Linked DNA regions of Homo sapiens: all the other regions are reported to be linked to region 1. The links are microRNA targets in miRTarBase. Many come from high-throughput screens and were not tested one by one. Region 1 holds a microRNA gene; each other region holds the end of a gene's coding sequence.

Evidence for each region. Region 1 holds the annotated microRNA hsa-miR-520a-3p (AAAGUGCUUCCCUUUGGACUGU, at 2,964-2,985, shown strand). A microRNA usually pairs through its seed, bases 2 to 8, with sites in the 3' UTR of a target mRNA and lowers its output. Matches are read on the target gene's strand: a 7mer-m8 pairs with bases 2 to 8, a 7mer-A1 pairs with bases 2 to 7 and ends in A, and an 8mer does both.
Region 2: the mRNA of ZNF12 is a reported target of hsa-miR-520a-3p. Seed matches in the 3' UTR shown: 7mer-m8 at 2,845-2,851.
Region 3: the mRNA of DCTN5 is a reported target of hsa-miR-520a-3p. The part of its 3' UTR that is shown has no 7-base or 8-base seed match.
Region 4: the mRNA of PSD3 is a reported target of hsa-miR-520a-3p. Seed matches in the 3' UTR shown: 7mer-m8 at 2,828-2,834.
Region 5: miRTarBase lists DEGS1 as a target of hsa-miR-520a-3p. Seed matches in the 3' UTR shown: 7mer-m8 at 1,130-1,136.

Annotation. Positions count from the first base shown.
Region 1 is chr19:53,687,970-53,692,090 of GRCh38, forward strand. It overlaps MIR520A (microRNA 520a), which reads left to right and starts at 2,912; the gene lies at 2,912-2,996. It overlaps MIR1283-1 (microRNA 1283-1), which reads left to right and starts at 512; the gene lies at 512-598. The region is part of intron 2 of LOC107985342 (a long non-coding RNA gene); the gene reads left to right.
Region 2 is chr7:6,687,363-6,691,483 of GRCh38, reverse strand. It overlaps ZNF12 (zinc finger protein 12), which reads left to right. Exons shown (of 5, transcript NM_016265.4): 5 at 1-3,051. The coding sequence ends at 636. Among named protein-coding and RNA genes, the nearest start is that of ZNF12, 18 kb to the left of the region's middle.
Region 3 is chr16:23,666,251-23,670,371 of GRCh38, reverse strand. DCTN5 (dynactin subunit 5) reads right to left here. Exons shown (of 6, transcript NM_032486.4): 6 at 1-3,325. The coding sequence ends at 3,228. Among named protein-coding and RNA genes, the nearest start is that of PLK1, 11 kb to the left of the region's middle.
Region 4 is chr8:18,532,357-18,536,477 of GRCh38, forward strand. It overlaps PSD3 (pleckstrin and Sec7 domain containing 3), which reads right to left. Exons shown (of 16, transcript NM_015310.4): 16 at 1-3,602. The coding sequence ends at 3,387. Among named protein-coding and RNA genes, the nearest start is that of NAT2, 140 kb to the left of the region's middle.
Region 5 is chr1:224,191,675-224,195,795 of GRCh38, forward strand. DEGS1 (delta 4-desaturase, sphingolipid 1) reads left to right here. Exons shown (of 3, transcript NM_003676.4): 3 at 658-1,767. The coding sequence ends at 804. Among named protein-coding and RNA genes, the nearest start is that of DEGS1, 10 kb to the left of the region's middle. RefSeq lists a silencer at 885-954.

The DNA of each region.
Region 1 (4,121 bases):
ATTAGAGGTATGAGCCACCACACCCAACTGGTACTTGTGTATTCCTGTTCAAATTTTATTGAGGAGCTTTTACCACCTAGCCTGTGGTCTATCCTGGAGGATGTTTGTGTGTGCGACAATGTATATAGTTCAACATCTTAGATCACATTTTGGATGTTTCCAATGGGACTGTGTGTCTCCGCACTGGAACTCAAATGAACACTTGGCTCAGAATCCATTTGCTGTTCTCTGGAAATCCAGTCCAATTCTCTTGGTTAAGTATAAGGTATGTCTAGTAGGCATTGCTTTTTCTGTTTGAGAACAAAACTCGGGAGGATTGTCCCTTGATGAACAAGGCTAACCTGCTGAGCCTTTGAAGCAAGGAACTGGAGATGGTCCTTTTCAGGCGTTTTATTCTGGATTCCAGAAAACATGCAAACAGGGCCACTAAATGCATCTTTATTTTTCTGTCCATTTAAACCTGGTCAAAGAAAATTCCAACACGAAACCCAGAGTGCTGGAGCAAGAAGATCTCAAGCTATGAGTCTACAAAGGAAAGCGCTTTCTGTTGTCAGAAAGAAGAGAAAGCGCTTCCCTTTTGAGGGTTACGGTTTGAGAAAAGCAGTGTTGAAGTTGATGCTGATCTTGGTAATACATTTGCAGAGCATGCTTATCATCAGACTTGGATGATAGCGGGGTTATGTTTTGGTTTTGTGTTTTTCTAAGACAGGGTCTCCGTTGCCCAGGCTGGAGTGCGGTGGCACTTCCAACCTAGCTCTCTTGGGCTCAAGTGATCCTCTTTTTATTTATTTATGTATTCATTTTTGAGATGGAGCCTGGCTCTGTCACCCAGGCTGGAGTAGAGTGGGATGATCTCCACTCATTGCATCCTCTGCCTCCCAGGTTCCAGAAATTCTCCCACCTCCGTGTCACTAGTAGCTGGGATTACAAATGCTCACCACTATGACCTGCCAGTTTTTGTACTTTTGGCACAGACGGGGTTTCACCATGTTTGCGGGGCTGGTCTCAACTCCTGACCTCAAGTGATCTGCCTCCTTGGCCTCCCACAGTGCTGGGGATTATAGATATAAGCCACCGTGCCCGGCCCATTCCTGTCTTTTTAATTTAATCTGCTCGTCCCTGACATCGAAAATTTTTCTTGCTTAACAGCTTCCACTTATTTCTCGGAATAGACCTTTTTCTGCAGGAAGGGTGTAGTTGATTCAACCCTCACCCACTCATGCCAACCGTAGTGAGTGCTGTGACTGCAGCTGCACTGTTTATCCTGTTTTCTGCAGGTAATTTTTCCAGTGTACCATTCCAACCTGCAAAACCTCACATTTAAATGCAAATTTCTTGGTAAGCTGTGAAATGTTGGCTGTGGCTAATATGAGAAACAAGCTATTATAGACAAGATGAATCTCAGTTGCAGTGATAAATGTCACATGGGACAAAACCACAGATACTTTCACAAAAACCTTGAGGACCCTAGAAGGGCCTCCCTAGTAACAGGTGGGATGCGCATCCGCTCTTGTTGCCATAGTGAGTGATGCCTGTTCGTCCAGCCCTCAACACCTTTCACTCCGTGGAAGTTATGCCTGCACTGGTTTACAGAACCTCCCTTGACTTGACTTGAGGTAGAGTTGAAGGGAACCTCAGTGTCCCTTGCAGATGGGATGTGCATTGCTTCGCAAGAGCACAGAGGTGGAGTGCATGGGCTTTGAGTTTTTATTGGGTAAATGAAGCTGAAATACAGGGTGTATGACCACGTTATCAACGCACACTTGATTTAGGTTTTGTATTTTAGAGACGGGGGTGTGAGCTGCCAAAGCAAGGACTTATGTGTAGGAATTATTCTTTCTGTGAGCATACAGTATATGGAACTTTCTTTCTTTTGAGACAGGGTCTCAAAAATATATGATGTATGGCCAGGTGCGGTGGATCACGCCTGTAATCCCAGCAGTTTGGGAGGCCGAGGCGGGTGGATAACCTGAGATCAGGAGGGCGAGACCAGACTGGCCAACATGGTGAAACCATGTCTCTGCTAAAAATACAAAAAATTAGCCAGGGCTGGTGGCGCACGCCTGTAGTCTCAGCTACTCCGGAGGGTGAGGCAGGAGACTATCACTTTGAGTGTGTGTCTTTGTGTGTGTGTGTGTGTGTGTGTGTGTGTGTGTATGTGTTTCTAGTTTTTACAAGACACAGCCTGACTATATCACCGAGGCTGGAGTGCAGTGGTGCAATGTTGGCTCACTGCAACCTCCACCTGCCACCGCAGCCTCCTGAATTAGTGTCTACAGGTATGCACCACCACACCTGGCTCACTTTTGTATTTTTTGTACAGATGAAGCTTCACCATGTTGCCCAGGCTTGTCTGGAACTCTTGAGCTCAAGTGATCCTCTCACTTCGGCGTCCTGAAGTGCTGGGGTTAGAGATGTGAGCCACCGCACCCAACAGGTACTTGTGTATTTTTTTATTGAGGAGCTTTTACAGCGTAGCCTGTGGTCTCTCCTGGAGGATGTTTGTGTGTGCGACAATGTACATTCTTCAACATCTTAGATTCCATTTTGGATGCCCCCATGGGTACTACATGTGCCTATACTGGAACTCAAGTGAACACTTGGCTCAAAATCCATTGCTGTTCTCTAGAAATTCAGTTCGATTCTCTTGGTTAAAGATAAGGTATGAGTAGTAGGCATTGCTTTTTCTCTTTGGGGGCAAAACTCAGGAGGATTGCCCCTTGATGAACAAGGCTAACCTGCTGAGCCTTTGAAAGAAGGAACTGGAGATGGTCCTTTTAGGGGGTTTATATTCTGGATTCCAGAAAACATGCAAACAGGGCCAGGAAAAATGCATCTTTATTTTTGTGTCCATTTAAACCTGGTCAAGGAAAATTCCAACAATAAACCCAGAGTGCTGGAGCAAGAAGATCTCAGGCTGTGACCCTCCAGAGGGAAGTACTTTCTGTTGTCTGAGAGAAAAGAAAGTGCTTCCCTTTGGACTGTTTCGGTTTGAGTAAAGCAGCGTTGAAGTTGATGCTGATCTTGGTAATACATTTGCAGAGCACGCTCATCATCAGACTCGGATGATGTTGGGGTTCTGATTTTGTTTTTCTCCAAGACAGGGTCTCTGTTGCCCAGGCTGGAGTGCAGTGGCAGTTCCAACCTAGCTCTCCTGGGCCCAAGAGACCCTCTATTTATTTATTTATTTATTTATTTATTTATTTATTTATTTATTCATTCATTCATTTAGAGATGGAATCTGGCTCTGTGACCCAGGCTGGAGTGCAGTAGGACAATCTCCACTCACTGCAACCTCCATCTCCCAGGTTCCAGCAGTTCTGCCACCTCAGCCTCCCATGTAGCTGGGATTACAGGCGCCCACCACCATGTCATGCTAATTTTTGTATTTTTAGCAGAGATGGGGTTACACCATGTTTGCTGGGCTGTTCTCAACTCCTGACTTCAAGTGATTTGCCTCCCTGGCTTCCCAAAGTGCTGGTATTACAGGCGTGAGCCACTGTGTCCGGCCTCAAGTGGTCTTCCTGAGTCAGCCTCCCAAGTAGTTGGGATTACATGGGGCGTGACACAACACTTGGTTCAGCTTTTAATTTTTGGTAGAGATGGGGTCTCTGTTGCTCAGGACGGTCTCAACTCCTGAGCTCAAGCGATCCTACAGGTGTGAGCCACCTTGTCCTGATGACCCATTTCAAAGATAGTTGACTTGGCCAGGCATCATGGGGCACACAGTCCCAGTTACTGCAGGGGCCGGGGCGGGAGGGTGCTTTGATTTTAAGGCTATACCGTGCACAGATCCCACCTTTGAATAGCCACTGCACTCCAGCCTGGGCCAACATAGCAAGATCCCATTTCTTTAAAAACAGATTACATAGCACCTGGTCCCACAGATTTCATTTGGGTTGGTCATGTCATACAATGGCCTCCCATCAATTTAGTATAATCAATCCAAACCATGGTTCCTTCATTAAGAGAGTGGGTAATCCTCCAAGTCCATCCAGTCTATTCTGTAATCCCCAGTGGGTGTCCGTATTGATACAATTTCTTTTTGTTCCTGTTCACTCGTGTCTTTTTAGTGTAATCTGCTTGTCCGTAACACTGAAATTTGTTTTTCCCCAACATCT
Region 2 (4,121 bases), not on the chromosome of region 1:
CACACAGGAGAGAAACCTTACGAATGTAATGAATGTGGAAAGTTATTCTCCCAGTTGTCATACCTCACTATCCATCATAGAACTCATTCAGGAGTAAAACCCTATGAATGTAGTGAATGTGGGAAAACCTTCTACCAGAACTCAGCCCTTTGTAGACATCGGAGAATACACAAAGGAGAGAAGCCCTATGAATGCTATATATGTGGAAAATTCTTCTCTCAGATGTCATACCTCACTATACATCATAGAATTCATTCAGGAGAGAAGCCCTATGAATGTAGTGAATGTGGGAAAACCTTCTGCCAGAATTCAGCCCTTAATCGACATCAGAGAACACACACAGGAGAGAAAGCCTACGAATGTTATGAATGTGGGAAGTGCTTCTCTCAGATGTCCTATCTCACTATACATCATCGAATTCATTCAGGAGAGAAACCCTTTGAATGTAATGAGTGTGGAAAAGCCTTCTCTCGGATGTCATACCTCACTGTACATTATAGAACTCATTCAGGAGAGAAACCCTATGAGTGTACTGAATGTGGAAAAAAATTCTACCACAAATCAGCATTCAACAGCCATCAGAGAATTCATAGGAGAGGCAATATGAATGTAATAGATGTGGGAAGGCTTCTCTGAAGTCAGACCTCATTTTATATCAGAGAACCCTTTCAGTATAGTGAATCAGAAACTCCTGCCTGAAGTCAAACACCTTGTACATCAGAGAGTTCACACAGGTTAGTGTGGACATCCCCTTGTGTGTTGGACTCATAATCTGAAGACTCACAGAATGGAAACCATGATTATAACAAGACCACATGGTATAACAATACTAGACTATAGACAAGTAAAAATTTATAAATATTAAGAATGTATATACATGTCACCATGGATTGGAACTGTTTTGCATATCAGGGAAATCATAGCCAAGGGGAAATCTATCAGTATAAGGAATGTGGAAGACATAATCCTTTGGAAACTGTTAATACTAAAAGATATGTTTCTGATACAATAGCAAACTTGAAAAAAAAAAAAGAAATAGAAGATTCCTGCTGTGAATAAACATACTTCTTGTGTAAATAGAAACTGTAAAGTCATCAGGATAGCTAGTTAAGTCGGTAACCTTAAACTCATGTAAGCAGTTCCCAAAGAACATAGGACTTATGTTTGGGGAGAGGGTTGTTTTTATTACAGTACATTACAGGAATTGTATGTTCACTTCGAATCATGTTTGAAAAAACGTTGTATCCTTATTTTGTAATTCATATAGTAAGAGTATTCTAAACAGCACTACATTAATATCATTTGATAGGTATAAAGTATACTTTTTCTTGCACTCTTCTCTAGGATTTAATGCATTGATCATTCTTAATGAACAATATCAGCTCTAAAGGACCAATGCTTTTATAATGTTTTCAACTGTATCTGAGTCAGCCAGAGAGATAAATATCCATGTATAAAATAGATAGAAAACTTTGCTTGGTAATTTAAAATTAATAATGCCAGTTTTCCAAGAGTGAGAAAATCATTGCACTCTATACAGTTTTAAGATATACTTAAAATATTCCCATTTGTATCTATTTTTTTTTCTACTGTTTTTTATTTGGACACTTACATAACAGTGCAGAGCACAATGCTGTGTAACATAGGAATTCACTGTGTTTTCATTTGATGTCGTACTGGTTTTAAACCTTGTGCTCTACTCCTTCCTGTTAATGAATTAAGAACACATTCTAACAAGGGTCTGTGGCAGACATTGCCGAGTGACTTTCTAACATAGGAATTCACTGTGTTTTCATTTGATGTCGTACTGGTTTTAAACCTTGTGCTCTACTCCTTCCTGTTAATGAATTAAGAACACATTCTAACAAGGGTCTGTGGCAGACATTGCCGAGTGACTTTCTTAGTCACTCCCTTACTCTGCTGGCGGAGTTTGGTTATCCATTTATCCTCAAAAGGAAGTGAGATAAATCCTGATTAGTTTTAACCAGTGACACTCCCCTTCTCGTTGCCAGCAGTTGATTTACAGTGGTCACAGGGCCCAATTCTAGACATAAAACAAAGGATATACCTGACAGACTACTTCTGGAAAAGGTTTTCTCAAAGGCCCAAGGATTCAAGCAAAGGGAAGTGGAATCTTGTGGTGAACAGTACCTTGTCTGGATGTGGTGCCTGGTAACCATCTTTCAGCAATGGATTATAGTTTAATCATGGCCTGAGCAGAAATACTGAAAGACCCTGAGACCTGGATGATGTCTTTGAGCCACCAAACCAAGCAGCCTTGTAGCCACTCCTCCTTTGGACTGTTTCTTTTGTGAGAGACTAAACTTATTTTTAAGCCAGTTGATTTAGGATGCTCTATTACTAATAACTGAAGACATTCTAATTGGTACAGACTGAAACCTTTATAGGAGTTATGCAGTTCAGAAGTGGACTTTAGGTAAGTCATTTATTTTAAGCTGTTGATATAGAGATTTATTTTCTGTAAATTTTGACGTAAATAGTTTGAGCATTAGAAATCAACTTGAAACAATAAAATGTATGCTTCCTTGAACTGTCATATCGTTGACCTGCAAAATTCACCTTTGGAACGTGACACAATGTTAGGCATACCTCCTTTTTTCTAATACATGGAATACATTTTGTTGGAGGTAATTTATGTGATTCATATACCACTGCTACAGTGTTAGCTGACAACATATAGTATGAGGTAAGGATCTAATTCTGTTTCCTCTCACATGATTACTTGATAGCTAAGCATCTGATTGGTTTACTGCTTTACCACTGAGCTGAAATGCCGTGTTTTCCATTTATTAAAATCACACATGGCTCCTGTTTTTGTCACTCAGCACTTTTTCTCCATATTCTTCAAGACGATTGTGAGTATGGTACGTAACAGGAATTACATCTGGTAAGTTGTATAGTTTTGTGTAGGAACTCTATATTCATAGCATATTTGTGGAAATGATACCTATGGAGGTTTCTCACACTGGTGTGTCATTATACATTAATTGTACAATATGCATTTTCAGTAAAATATTTGAAAACTGTAAATGGCTTGGCATTTTCTTCTTATCCTATGGATTGCCTGCACATCAAAGGGTCTGGTACGTATATAAGTGGTCCTGAACTGCCTCTTCAGTAATGTAGTCAGTGTTCATAGTAACATGTTTATAGTTTAAAAGATGCCAATGTTTTCATAAATTAAGAGATTTTTTTGGCCCATCTTAAAATGAAGCCCACCAGGAAATACATTCTTAAAATTATATTGCTTTTTTCTTCCTATCACAGAGATAACTACATCAAAAATAAATTGATTTTCCCTTCATTGAATATAAAGTCTATGATTCCTGCCAAATTGATGCACTAGCATGGGCTGCTGGCTTGTTACAGTGCAAGCCCGGAGGTGCCACGGAAATAAGAGCAGTGTTTGGGTCCAGAGAACTAAGGATGTGAATGGGGCTCTTTTGCGGGAAAGGTAATGGCAGACAGAACAAATCTTAAAGAGTAGTTGAATTGTAATCTTTTTCCCTATACATTTATGGTCCTCTGTAGTATGCCCAGGAGATGATAGCCCACCATGGTGCCTTCATAAGATAGGAGAGCAGCTCGGTCCTATGGGAGCACTTAGGTTCCATTAGAGCATCCTCTCCTCACTTCAAAAGCCAGTCATTGCTACGACTGGAGACATTCATTTTTTTGTTTGTTCGTTTTGTTTTTTGTTTGTTTTTGAGACGGACAGAGCCTTGCTCTGTCACCAGACTGGAGTGCAGTGGCACGATCTCGGCTCACTGCAAACTCTGCCTTCCGGGTTCAAGCGATTCTCCTGCCTCAGCCTCCCAAGTAGCTGGGACTACAGGTGCCAGCCACCACTCCCAGCTAATTTTTTGTATTTTTAGTAGAGATGGGGTTTCACCATGTTGGCCCGGATGGCCTCGATCTCCTGACCTTGTGATCTGCCTGCCTCGGCCTCCCAAAGTGCTGGGATCACAGGCATGAGCGACCACACCCAGTCGACTGGAGACATCTTAAGGAGGCAGTATTTAGGGTGATCATGTCAAGTGGTATCCTGAGGGTCAGTCAAGCGGGGCGGGGGGGGGTCTCATTCCAGGCATTGGTGATAG
Region 3 (4,121 bases), not on the chromosome of region 1:
ATCAGTGACTAAGAAAGGAACTGTGGCCTCAGATCCTGAGTGAAATGGTTCATGCAGAAGTGACTAATACAGAAGCCACCACCCCAACCCCAAATAACCACAAGGGCTCTGTGCAGCCATGTAAAACAGAATCAGTCAACAGGAGGCTCACAAGACAATCATTCACCTTTGTTCCCTGCAGCAGGTATCCTGCAATCTGAGACTTATCTTGAGCTGGGGTAAGGTCTGAGGCATGCTGGCAGGGTGTGTGAGGGTTGGGGGTGAGGGTGGTCACATCCAGGCAATCATTCTATTAAGGATGTGCTAGATGACCCACAGACTCAGGCCTGACTCCTCAGGAGCTCACAGTTAGTAGGGGTTCAGACAAGAACACAGGTACATAACTAAAACTCTATTGATAAGGGCGCCTCGGTAAGGTGCTATGGGAACCATAAGGATGCAGTTCCATGGCCCAGTCAGCTCATCTGGGGAAAAATAATAAAACAAAAAGGAAGCAGTTCCAGACAGAAGACCATCTCCAAATGGTTCTTTATTGAACACCCACTTTGGCTAGGCAATATCCTCCCCCTGCCCTCTAATCCAGGCTCAGGTACCCCCAGTGGAGTATCCTCAGAAGGCAACTCCCAAGACCAGGAGTAATGAGAGATTGGGCAGAGGGTAAGGGACAGCAGGGAGACGGAGGAAAATGAAGACACCAGGGAAAGAGGAGAGGCCTGAACTGGACAGCTGATGCTTTGTCCTGCCCAGCACCCATTCGTCCCTTCTTCAGGTAATATCATCTGCCACCACAACCACCAGCACCAACTCTCAGTCTCTGTGGGTACATGCCAGGCCTGTCCATTTGGTGTATTCCATCTTCCTGGCCACAATGATGACTTGAGGCTGGATACCTTCCTCGTCTGGACCAATGAGAACCAAATCCAGCAGTTCTGTCAGCAAAGGGGAGCTCTTTTTATCAATAACTGGTGCTGTGGGGCCACACTGTGAAGCCCAAGAATAAAGCCAACTCAAATGAAAGCAGAGCTGAGAGCCAAAGAGACAGATCCCTGTTTGGAGTCCTGGGATGCAGCCTGAAGCCCAATCTAGCCCATCCTTTTCAGCTACGTGAGCCATTAAATTCCCTCTGCCCCAAGTGAACTGGAAAGAGTCCCAACCAAGGTCCTTCCCATCTGGTTGTTCTTCTGGAAGTATTTTGAGGACAAGGAGATTTTCATCTCCAGGGTTATAAAAGTAATTGTGTGGTGACAGGCTGTTCCTAGGTCCCTGGGGTGAGAGCCACCATGGAGACAGAGTCCAGCTCGCCTTTCCTAGGATACACACTCACGACTGTCAACACATCTTCGAATACATCAGCACATAATTATAAACTCCTATTGTTTGTAGTAGCTATTGTTTTTGTCTTCCCATCACCTTGTTTTGGATGAAGAAAAGGTCATGACCCAGACTGGATTAATCATGTGGCCAAACATGCATGGCCACAGTGACTGATCCAAGAGGACATGGAACTCACAACAAACCATTGAGAACTTTGGGAGTTTCCAAATTCGAACTGGAAGGGAAGAAACCTTTCATTCAGAGCCCCCAAGCTAGGAGGATGCAGGTCTGGAGCTATCAGCTGTCATGGCTCCAAATGCACGGCGAAGGCTCATGTGCAGCAGGAGGAAAGGAAGCCAACAAAGAGGCCTGGTTGAGTCTGCTTGTTGTCTCCCAATGGCCATTCTTCCCCCACTCCTTTTTACTAGCAGAATCTCCTTCCTCAGAGTTTTGGCTGCCCAAGTAGAAACTAAATTTACAGCCTCCTTTGTTGCTAACTGTGGCCACATGGCAAGACAGTAGGAACCTGGGTGCCTGATGACATCATGGACCAGCCCCTTGCCTGGCCTGGACCAGCTGACTATCACTGCACTGTTATGGGAGAGAGAAATAAACTTCCATCTTGTCGAAGCTATGTATTTTGGTGGTTTTATGTATAAACATTTTAAAAATAACAAACTAGAAAGGAGTTCTAGATGGAACTAGTGGCAATGATTACATACAGCTGTTTTGTTTTGCAAACCCCACAACTGGATATTAAGTCAGGATAGCTCCTGCTAAATTCTAACCTCAAGGCTGAACTGTTCTGCCCTATTCACTTACAGATCAGAGCATTAGGCAAGGACAACCTTCTTAGCCCCTCACTTCTGAATCTTCCTTCTAAGCTAAGAGGTCAGAGCAGAACGAGGAAATGTTGTGCTATTTGGCCAGAAGGAGATGGTAAGAACAGCCCTAGTAACTTCATTTACTCCTGAGGCTCTGTGCCCACAAACTGATTCTAAGAGCCCTTCCTGTATATATGCGAATTAGCTCTAAGTACAGACATTTTGGTGTGAATTGTGGAGTTTATGGCAAATACAGGGTAGGCTGAATGGTTCTAGGCCAGGAAGCAAGAGTTCACAAATGCGGTGTCTTCAATGAAATAAGGTAAGTACCTTGAAGCAAGGAGTAACCACCTGACTAATGCATCCACATGAGAGACTCAAATCTAACACTTGGCAAAATTACAATCTGGGATACTGAGGTCCCCACTTTTAGTGAAAGCCAAAGGCCCTAGGTCAAAATGCTAAAAAGTCTTTTACTAACTATCCTAGGACAGCTAAGGTCATTTTGGGAAGAAGAGAGAAACACTATTCACCCCTCCCTTCAAGTTTTAATAGACAACAGGAATCTGGGCTCTGAAAAGTCACAAACACCTTTCCCAAGATGATGAGCAACTGCAACAACTGGCCAAATGTGTTAGCAGCAGAAAAGCTGGGCATTACCTGTGTGAGAGGCGCTCAGCATGGGCAGTGAATGGCCGTGAGCAGCGCACCAGCTACATAGCCTCCACACCGGAAGGGTGCTGCTGCTCTGCAGGTCCGTTTCAGGCGGGATCCAGCCATCCACAGGACCAAGGGGCTGGAGTGTTGGGAACAGATGATTCTGTGTTCCACAGATAATGGTACAAAGTGACTGTTCATAGATAAGGTGTAAGCACAGCATTTGAAGACAGCTCCTCCAGATGGTCTGTCTGTTAGTGAATTCTTAAGCACTTAGAGCCTTGAAGATTGAGAAATTCTAAAGAAATTTTTTAAAAGGAGGAGGGTGGTAGATGTCAAAGACACAAAAGCTCTTTGTAGGTGCTGACTGGCTCACTTTGTCCCCAGGTTCATCTTAGAGCTCAAGCAGATTCAAGACATGAGGCAGAGATGCTAGACTTGCGTCAGGGGCAAAAACTTCTGGTAGTAGCTCTTGGTGACGTCAATCATCAGCTCCTGAGTGCACTCCGGGAGCTCCCCTGAGAAGAGTCCTGGGGAAAGAAAGACCCAGCTCTAAGGAGCTTGAAGAAGTTACAAGAAGTTAAGATATTTCTCTGGCAATATCCTTCTCACCTCAATCAGATGCATGTCTGACAATCACTTAAATAATCGCTGAGGCTGTTCTGGTCCAGTGCTTGCTAAGAACAGCTAAACTTTTTCACAGCAGGACCCCAATATGGAGAAATTACTAAACAAAAGTCTCTCCTTCCTCCTCTGCAAAAGCAGAGATGCATGACACGGTAGAATGGCCAAATGCCTCCCCGAAGAATCTGAGTGATGATTTTGTTCATCTTAGAAACTCAGATTCAATGATCTGAGAGATGAGATTTATTTTTTAATTGGAAAAACAATTAAACCACTCAGTGGTAGGTATCATATACTGTCAAATCTCTCTGTTCATATTATTTTCCATCTGTGAATTTATGACGTGCCTCTGTATATGCTACATGATTTCAGCTGTGTAAAACAACATGGAGAAGAAGATACTGTCTTGGGGTAGGGCTAAGGGAATGTGAGGTTTTCTCCTTCCTTCTGCTTTTCAGTGTTTTCCAAGTTTTCTGAGAGAAGTACGTATCACTTTTGTTTCCTCAAGCTTTATAATTTGGAACTCCGGGCTCCTGATGGGCTTTACTTGTGAGCATTCTATCAGCCAAGGTCCAGAGATAATGTATTAATATTTGCCCCTCTCAGGTATCCCCAGGGTATTGCTGGTCTTAGACCATGGTTTATGCTAACTTTTCAGTCTGGGAATTCCTGGGCCATGTGGAATGTACAAATTAAACCCAT
Region 4 (4,121 bases), not on the chromosome of region 1:
TTTTCCTCTTCCAGAGTAAATTCCTCATGTCACTTTTGCCCAGGGGCCAGTCCTCATTTTCTAGATTAGGATAACAGTTGGAGACGCATAGAGGGTCTTGTGTTTGCCACAAGACCACTGCACCAAAAAATGCTTTCTATCCTCTGCATCTAAGAGGAATAAAAAGGTTACACATAATCCAGGGACTACATTTCCATCAGAGGACTCTCTCCCATCATGGTTTTGCTGAGATTAATTAAAATTCACAAAAGTATTGCTCAGTTTAATTAGACACTGCTGAGAGTTAGCAAAATGATGTTTCAAAAAAGTGCACTTCAGAAATGCCTACGGGCTGGCGATAAAGTAAGGACTCTGCATCCCAGTAATTAAGTTTTGATTGCTAATGAGGAATCCCAGACACCTCCCTGTAAAAGCCAGCATGCGAGGTGGGGACAAACCCCTAAAATTCAGATTTTATACATGGGCCACCTGTATGGTCAATTTTGCAACAACACTATGACCAAGGCATTCTGATAGCTGTCAAGATTTTCTGTACTAGAAATTAATATGAAGTGTATTGACGTGAAGAAGAATGATTTATCATATGGAAGGAAGTCCCAAGGCTCCTGGGCGCTGAGGTGGGCGACGGAGGTGGGTGGCGTACCTTCAGAGGAAAGGGAAGGGGTGCTCCCTTGTACCGTGAATTGGGCAACAGGCTTGGAGCAGCTGTGAAAGGAAACATCCTCAATTTCTTCTGGCTAGATGCCACAGGAAATAAATTATCCCAAAGGAAAATGTGGTTGGCTATGGGCCAGACTCTCAGAATCTAGGCAAATCAGTGACTGTTTCCTCCCATAGCATAAACTCTTGGCCTCCTTCATGCACTCATGACAGACAGCAACCTTCAGAAGCCTCAGGGAAGAGGTGTTCTCAGCCCATGCGCTAAAGATGGACAGCATCATGCTACGGCAGTCTGAGATCCTGGCTCACAAAAGAACCTTTAAAGTTGTTTTTAAAGATAAACTATGCAAACATGGTATACTGAAGCTTCAAAAGAGCCCTTCGTATCCAATGATCTATTAGCCTATCCAGAAGTCCCTGGAGTTAATATTAGTGACTCATATGACACGGACAGTGCTATAGTGGTGCTGATGCTAGCCGAGTATTTCAACACTACTCTAAATGTCAGAAATACTGTAGCAAGGTACCATTCAATGTATATTAAATAAGTAAAATACATACAGACATTCTATATACATAGATATAGACTGTGGGCAAACACATTCAAGCCACTCAGGGAAGTTCCTTTTTCTTTAGTTACTGAAGCTTGTAGATGACATGGTCTAGGTACCTCTCTCCCCTCGGCTTAGTATAAACATTTAGGCAGAAAACAAATATCCTGATAATTTAGATTATCAGGTAGAAAGACAGATAACTTGCTTGTGGATATGTTGGATTCAGTGAGAGGCTACAAAAATCAATCTGATACATGGGCCATATTGGTAACTATCCTGTTTGTTTTGCAGTTCTGAAACATAAACTTAGTTACTGCCTTTACCCAAACAAGGCAGAGAGTTAAAAGTGAGGTTTTTTTTTTTACAGGTGTGGCAAAATACTTATTACAAAGAAAGCAACTGCAACCCTAGAGAGGGGTAAGCCTTCTCTGGGCAATAGTCATGGACATTTACAGAGGGGAAGGAAGTAAACGTTAATAAATAATTCTGTAAATAAATGCTAGTACATCATAATAACATACCACTTAGACACTACCATGGCTTTACAGCAGGTTTTCTCTAATTCACTGGAACCATGCTATTCCTGTAGAGCAGCTGATTCTTTGGTCATAGTACCTTCAACAAATAAACTATAGAACTAGAGAAACTTTCTAAGGGAGGAAAAAGAAAAATCAAAGTGATACTATTAGTTCTGAAGTTGTGCCACTTGCGGAGATTTTAACTTTAGGGATTACAGAGTTTCAAGGTTAGGAAATCACAAAGCTCTAGGTCTCAGTGGGCTAAACTTTCACTCCTTTCTCTTCCTCTACAGAAGAATATTCTGTTTATCACCCTGAACTTCAAAGGGACTGTAACTGGAACAAGCTCATGACTGCAAAGTTAATAGAACCATTTTGAGTAGACAGAAAGAAAGGACTGAAAATAGATGAAGTATTTTTAGGAGAAAGTTGAGTAGTAGCAGAGTGAAGTGGCTATCAAGGAGACTGAGACAAGAATAAACAAAGTCACTTTGCACCTGCAACCAGAAGATTCCTCAGTTTTCCAACCATAATTCATTCTGACTACTACTTTCAGATATATTTTAAAGAACCAATATCCATCGTGGACAACTGCAGCTACGTTTTCCTTCCTTATTTTGTCTTAAGGACACAAGAAAAGCTGTTTCATTTTAGTATTAATTTGTTAGGAAGGAAGACCTCAATATCACAACCAGGACACAACCCCATGCCCACACACGCACACACACGCACGCACACACACATATGTAGAGTAAGAAAAATCTATTCCTGGATGGAAGGATATCAACGATAGAGATGATGGATTTCTAGTCTAGACCCTGTGGGAGTGAGGTAACAATTCCTGCAGACTGAGCACATGCCTACTGCTGCAGCTCCTCAAGGGCCGATTATTGCCCCCATCCTTTAGCAAACAAAATTAACTGGGTATCAATCTTTCCTCAGCCTTCAAAGGCAAAATGACTCCACTTCCTCTTTCCCTTGCTTGGCTGAAATGGAATCAGCACTTCAAGCAAGCTAATGTGCTTCCCTAAGTTCTCAATCCTACGATCTTCACGCTTCTTTTCCCTGCTTCCAGCAGGGTCCGATCTCAACAACAAGTGCTAAGCTGCACATGAAGCTGCCTCATATTGGAGCAACTAGATTCCCAGCACTGTGATTCTTACTGGAGCATCTGTGAGTGCTCAATTCTACCTCTGTGACTGGGCAAGATTTCACATATAAAGGCGTATATTAACTCCAGCTAGAATTTACTAAAACTACAGTTTGTCCAGTTAAGTGTTTCACAATGGATTAAATTCTTTAACCTTAAAAAAAAGTTTAACAGTTGATATGAGAATACATAAAACAACTGAGCAGACTGCAAACAAGAGAAAACCAAAAGAGAAGGGATACATAATTCATTCTGAAATCACGATCCCCTCCTCCTCACAGAAAAGGTGCATTAGCTATCAAGTTGCAAAAATCATCAAAGCAAAAGAAATCAAGAGCAAAGACAATCTGTACAGAAACTAACAAAAATATACAATAGAAAAAATTACTAATGCACCGTTTTGTCACAGACTTTTTTTTTTTAAATATATTCACGGATTACCAGAAAGATCTTGAAAAACCCTATTTTGCTCCATGACCAGCACTTCCTGGCCGCAGATGGACTCTAAGTAACTTTTTGCTTAATGCTTGGTGTTTCAGGTCGGTGATCCTTCCTCTCTGACACGTTACGCTTGACTTTGGCAGTGATTGGAGAAGTATCCGGGTTCAGCGAAGGACTCGAGTGCGACTTCTTCAGTCCTGCAGCCTCGCTTTCATCGTTACTCAGTAGCTCTTTGCCTCCTTCCTTGAGAATGCTGACATACATTTCATAGCGGGTTTTCTGAAGGCAAAGCCAGAGAACAACGGTAGTCAGAAAACTGTTCAAAATGCACGTGTGCAGCACACTTGTGTATTACCCACCTGGAGAGTGTGAATGGCTGTTGAAGACTTCGCTTCATTTCCCAAACTGACAAATTACTTGGGCACTTACTGGGCACATGAGAGGCAACTACAGAGACTGTCTTATGTAGATAAGAAATTAAGTTAGAATTTTAGTTCTCATTTGTTCTAGATTCTGACAGAATGTCAACTTGGAGTTGCTGGCTACCAGATGGAACACCATGAATCTAGAACACTCAGGCATGAGAAGGGTCTAAGTTGGAGGAGCTGTCACCTCTGGTTTTCGGCGGCTGCATGGCTCTTGTGGCTCTGTACCAAAGTCACCTGAGCCTCCCCAGGTAGTCCAGGCCTCACAAGAAACTGGCTTGGATATGGTTGTTTACTCTTTTTCTGACTCCCTGTAACCCTACAAAGGCTTGCCTTGAGGGACCATTCCGTGGCTAATCTCCTGGACAGTCAG
Region 5 (4,121 bases), not on the chromosome of region 1:
ACCTCCGCCTCCCGAGTTCAAGCAATTCTCCTATCTCAGCCTCCTGAGTTGCTGGGACTACAGGCGCACGCCACCATGTCTGGCTAATTTTTTTGTATTTTTAGTAGAGATGGGGTTTCACCATATTGGTTAGGCTGGTCTCGAACTCCTGACCTCAGGTGATCCACCCGCCTCGGCTTCCCAAAGTCCTGGGATTACAGGTATGAGCCACCGCACCCAGCCAAGTGCTTAATTTCTATCTAATTAGCATGCCACAATTTATTAGTATTTGTAAGTTCCTGGATGGCAGGGATCAGATGTTGCCTTTATATTCTATGGCGTCATCCATGCAGTACATTCTTTAATAATATCAAGTTAATCTAATTGTATGTATTTGTTGTTAATTTTACAAATAAGCCAGATATTTAGTCCCTTGGAATGTGATGGGAGAGAGACCTAGAGGGTCGAGTGTATTCAACTGCTGCTGAAATGTAGACTGCTTTTTGTTTAGAATTCCCACAGCTGCTGCTGCTGCTGCTTTTTTTTTTTTTTAAGAGAGAGGAGGGAGGCAGGTCTCATGGTTTCCCTTCTCAGTGTTTGTGTCAACCATTCATCAGTCATCTTTGAAAGAACCTAGTAACACTCATTTTTCATCTTGCTGTATTTTTTCCCTTCTAGGTGAGGAAAATAGCAGCTGAATACTATGACAACCTCCCTCACTACAATTCCTGGATAAAAGTACTGTATGATTTTGTGATGGATGATACAATAAGTCCCTACTCAAGAATGAAGAGGCACCAAAAAGGAGAGATGGTGCTGGAGTAAATATCATTAGTGCCAAAGGGATTCTTCTCCAAAACTTTAGATGATAAAATGGAATTTTTGCATTATTAAACTTGAGACCAGTGATGCTCAGAAGCTCCCCTGGCACAATTTCAGAGTAAGAGCTCGGTGATACCAAGAAGTGAATCTGGCTTTTAAACAGTCAGCCTGACTCTGTACTGCTCAGTTTCACTCACAGGAAACTTGTGACTTGTGTATTATCGTCATTGAGGATGTTTCACTCATGTCTGTCATTTTATAAGCATATCATTTAAAAAGCTTCTAAAAAGCTATTTCGCCAGGCACGGTGGCTCATGCCTATAATCCCAGCACTTTGGGAGGCCAAGGTGGGTGGATCACCTGAGGTCAGGAGTTCGAGACCAGCCTGGCCAACACGGTGAAACCCCATCTCTACTAAAAATGCAAAAATTAGCCGGGCGTGGCGGCACATGCCTGTAATCCCAGCTACATGGGAGGCTGAGGTGGGAGAATTGCTTGAACCCAGGAGGCGGAGGCAGAGGCTGCAGTGACCCAAGATTGTGCCACTGCACTCCACCCTGGGCAACAGAGCAAGACCCCATCTCAAAAATAAATAAATATATATAAAAAATAAAAAGCTATTTCTAGTTTATTTCACTATAAAGTTTTGCTTTATTAAAAAGCTAATAAACAGCTATTAATCACAGTGTATTAGTATTTGTTACATTTTTGTATTTCACTATCTTTATACTATATAATATGGTAACTTGGGTACCGGGGGAACTTTAAAATTTCATCTCAAAAATAATTTTTAAAAAGCCTGAGGTATGATATAGCATAAAAGATTGAGATGAAAATATATTTCCCTGTAAGCTGAATTACTCATTTAAAAATTTTAACTTCTATATGGGACCCGAATTAGACACTGCTGAATCCTGTACAGCCTTACTCATAAATAAAGTACTTACTGAATTTCCACCATTCAAATTCATTTTTCAGGTGTGTTGACTCTCACATTAGAAACTGCTCAACTGATAAAGACTTTCATGTTATTTCACTGCAGTGGGAACTGGCTGTGGTCTGATGGTAGATCGTTGGTCTCAAGTAGCTGGTAGCATGGGCTGTTGTTATGTCAGCAGTCTTGCTTACCTCAAATATGTCACTTGGATACGTTTAGTGTAATATGGTGAATTATTTTAAAAATACATCAGCAGCTGGGTGTGGTGGTTCACACCTGTAATTCCATGCTTCGGAAAGCTGAGGCAGGAGGATCGCTTGAGACCAGGAGTTTGAGACCAGCCTGGGCAACATAGTGAGACCCCATCTTTTTTTATTTTTTATTTTTTGAAATGGAGTCTTGCTCTGTTGTCCAGGCTGGAGTGCAGTGGCGCAATCTTGCCTCACCACAACCTCTGCCTCCTGGGTTCAAGCGACTTTCCTGCCTCAGCTTCCTGAGTAACTGGGATCACAGGCGTGCACAGCCATGCCCAGCTAATTTTTTTTTTTTTTTTTTTTTTTTTGTATTTTTAGTAGAGACAGGTTTTCACTATGTTGGCCAGGCTGGTCTCAAACTCCTGATCTCAGGTGATCTGCCTGCCTTGGCCTCCCAAAGTTCTGGGATTACAGGCATGAGCCGCTGTGTCTGGCCCCCATCTTTTCAAAAAATAAGAGTGGTGTGGTGGTGTGCACCTGTAGTCCCAGCTACTTGGGAGGCTGAGATTGAGACTACAATGAGCCATGATCGCACTACTACGCTCCAGCTTGGGTGACAAACACCCTCTAAAAAAAAAAAAAAGTTGGCTACATTGCAGTTTCGTAAAGAATAAAACAACACCCAGAATGCTGAGGGCGGGGTGAGGAGTAGAATCCTCTGTGGGACTGCCAGGCCTGTCTCACAGACCTCATTTCATCCCCAAAATACTTTGCTTTCCCTTCCTGACCCCCTTGCCTAGGAAAATTCCTAGTATCTTCTAATCTGTTACTCAAAGAACAATCAAAGAGTGACAATAGAACCAAGTTTACAATTCAGATTTTACTCAGTCACTAAAGTATCTGCAAAACATACCCCTGGATTTGATGCTAGATCATAGAGATCATGTACTCCCATCAAGTCTATAGAACTCTGGCCAATGGCACCGGGCGTGGTGGCTGTAATACCAGTACTTTGGGAGGCTGAGGCAGGTGGATCACGAGGTTAGGAGTTCAAGACTAGCCTGACCAATATGGTGAAACCCTGTCTCTACTAAAAAAAATACAAAATTATCTGGGCATGGTGGCATGTGCCTGTAGTCCTGGCTACTCGGGAAGCTGAGGCAGGAGAATCGCTTGAACCCAGGAGGCAAAGGTTGCGTGAGCCGAGATCACGCCCTGCACTCCAGTCTGGGCGACAGAGCAAGACAACGTCTCCAAAAAAAAAAAAAAGGCCAGGCGCGGTGCCTCACGCCTGTAATCCCAGCACTTTGGGAGGCCGAGGTGGGCGGATCACGAGGTCAGGAGATCAAGACCATCCTGGCCAATACGGTGAAACCCCATCTCTAGTAAAAAATACAAAAAATTAGCCAGGCGTAGTGGCCGGCGCCTGTAGTCCCAGCTACTTGGGAGGCTGAGGCAGGAGAATGGCGGGAACCCAGGAGGCGGAGCTTGCAGTCAGCCGAGATCGAGCCACTGCACTCCAGCCGGGGCGACAAAGTGAGACTACGTCTCAAAAAAAAAAAACAACAACCAAAAGAACTTTAGCCAATGGCTGCAGCTGCCATGTAAATGCTGAAAACCTCCAAATCTATCACTTCAGACCTCTCACTACCTGCTGGATGCACAGAGTGGGTTGTCATCCCTCTCCAAAACTCCAGTCTCCACTTACATAACCACTTCTTTCCTGAATGGAAGTTTCAGTCTTCGTAGCAGGCATCCCGATTATTCTGGCTCCCATCTGCCAACTCGATCCATTCTTTAAGAGAGCTACCAATCTGGGCAGTAAGAAGGCTGGGCCCCATAACCTCTAAAGAATAACTCCAAACAAAATTATCCGGGCCTGGTGTTGTGTGCATCTGTGGTCCTAAGCTACTCAGGAGGCTGAGGTAGGAGTTTCGCTTCTTTTTTTCTTTTTTTTTTGAGATGGAGTCCTGCTCTGTCGCCCAGGCTGGAGTGCAGTGGCTCGATCTGGCTCACTGCAAGCTCCGCCTCCCGCGTTCACGCCATTCTCCTGCCTCAGCCTCCCGAGTAGCTGGGACTACAGGCGACCACCACCACGCCCGGCTAATTTGTATTTTTAGTAGAGACGGGGTTTCACCGTGTTAGCCAGGATGGTCTCAATCTCCTGACCTCGTGATCCGCCCGCCTTG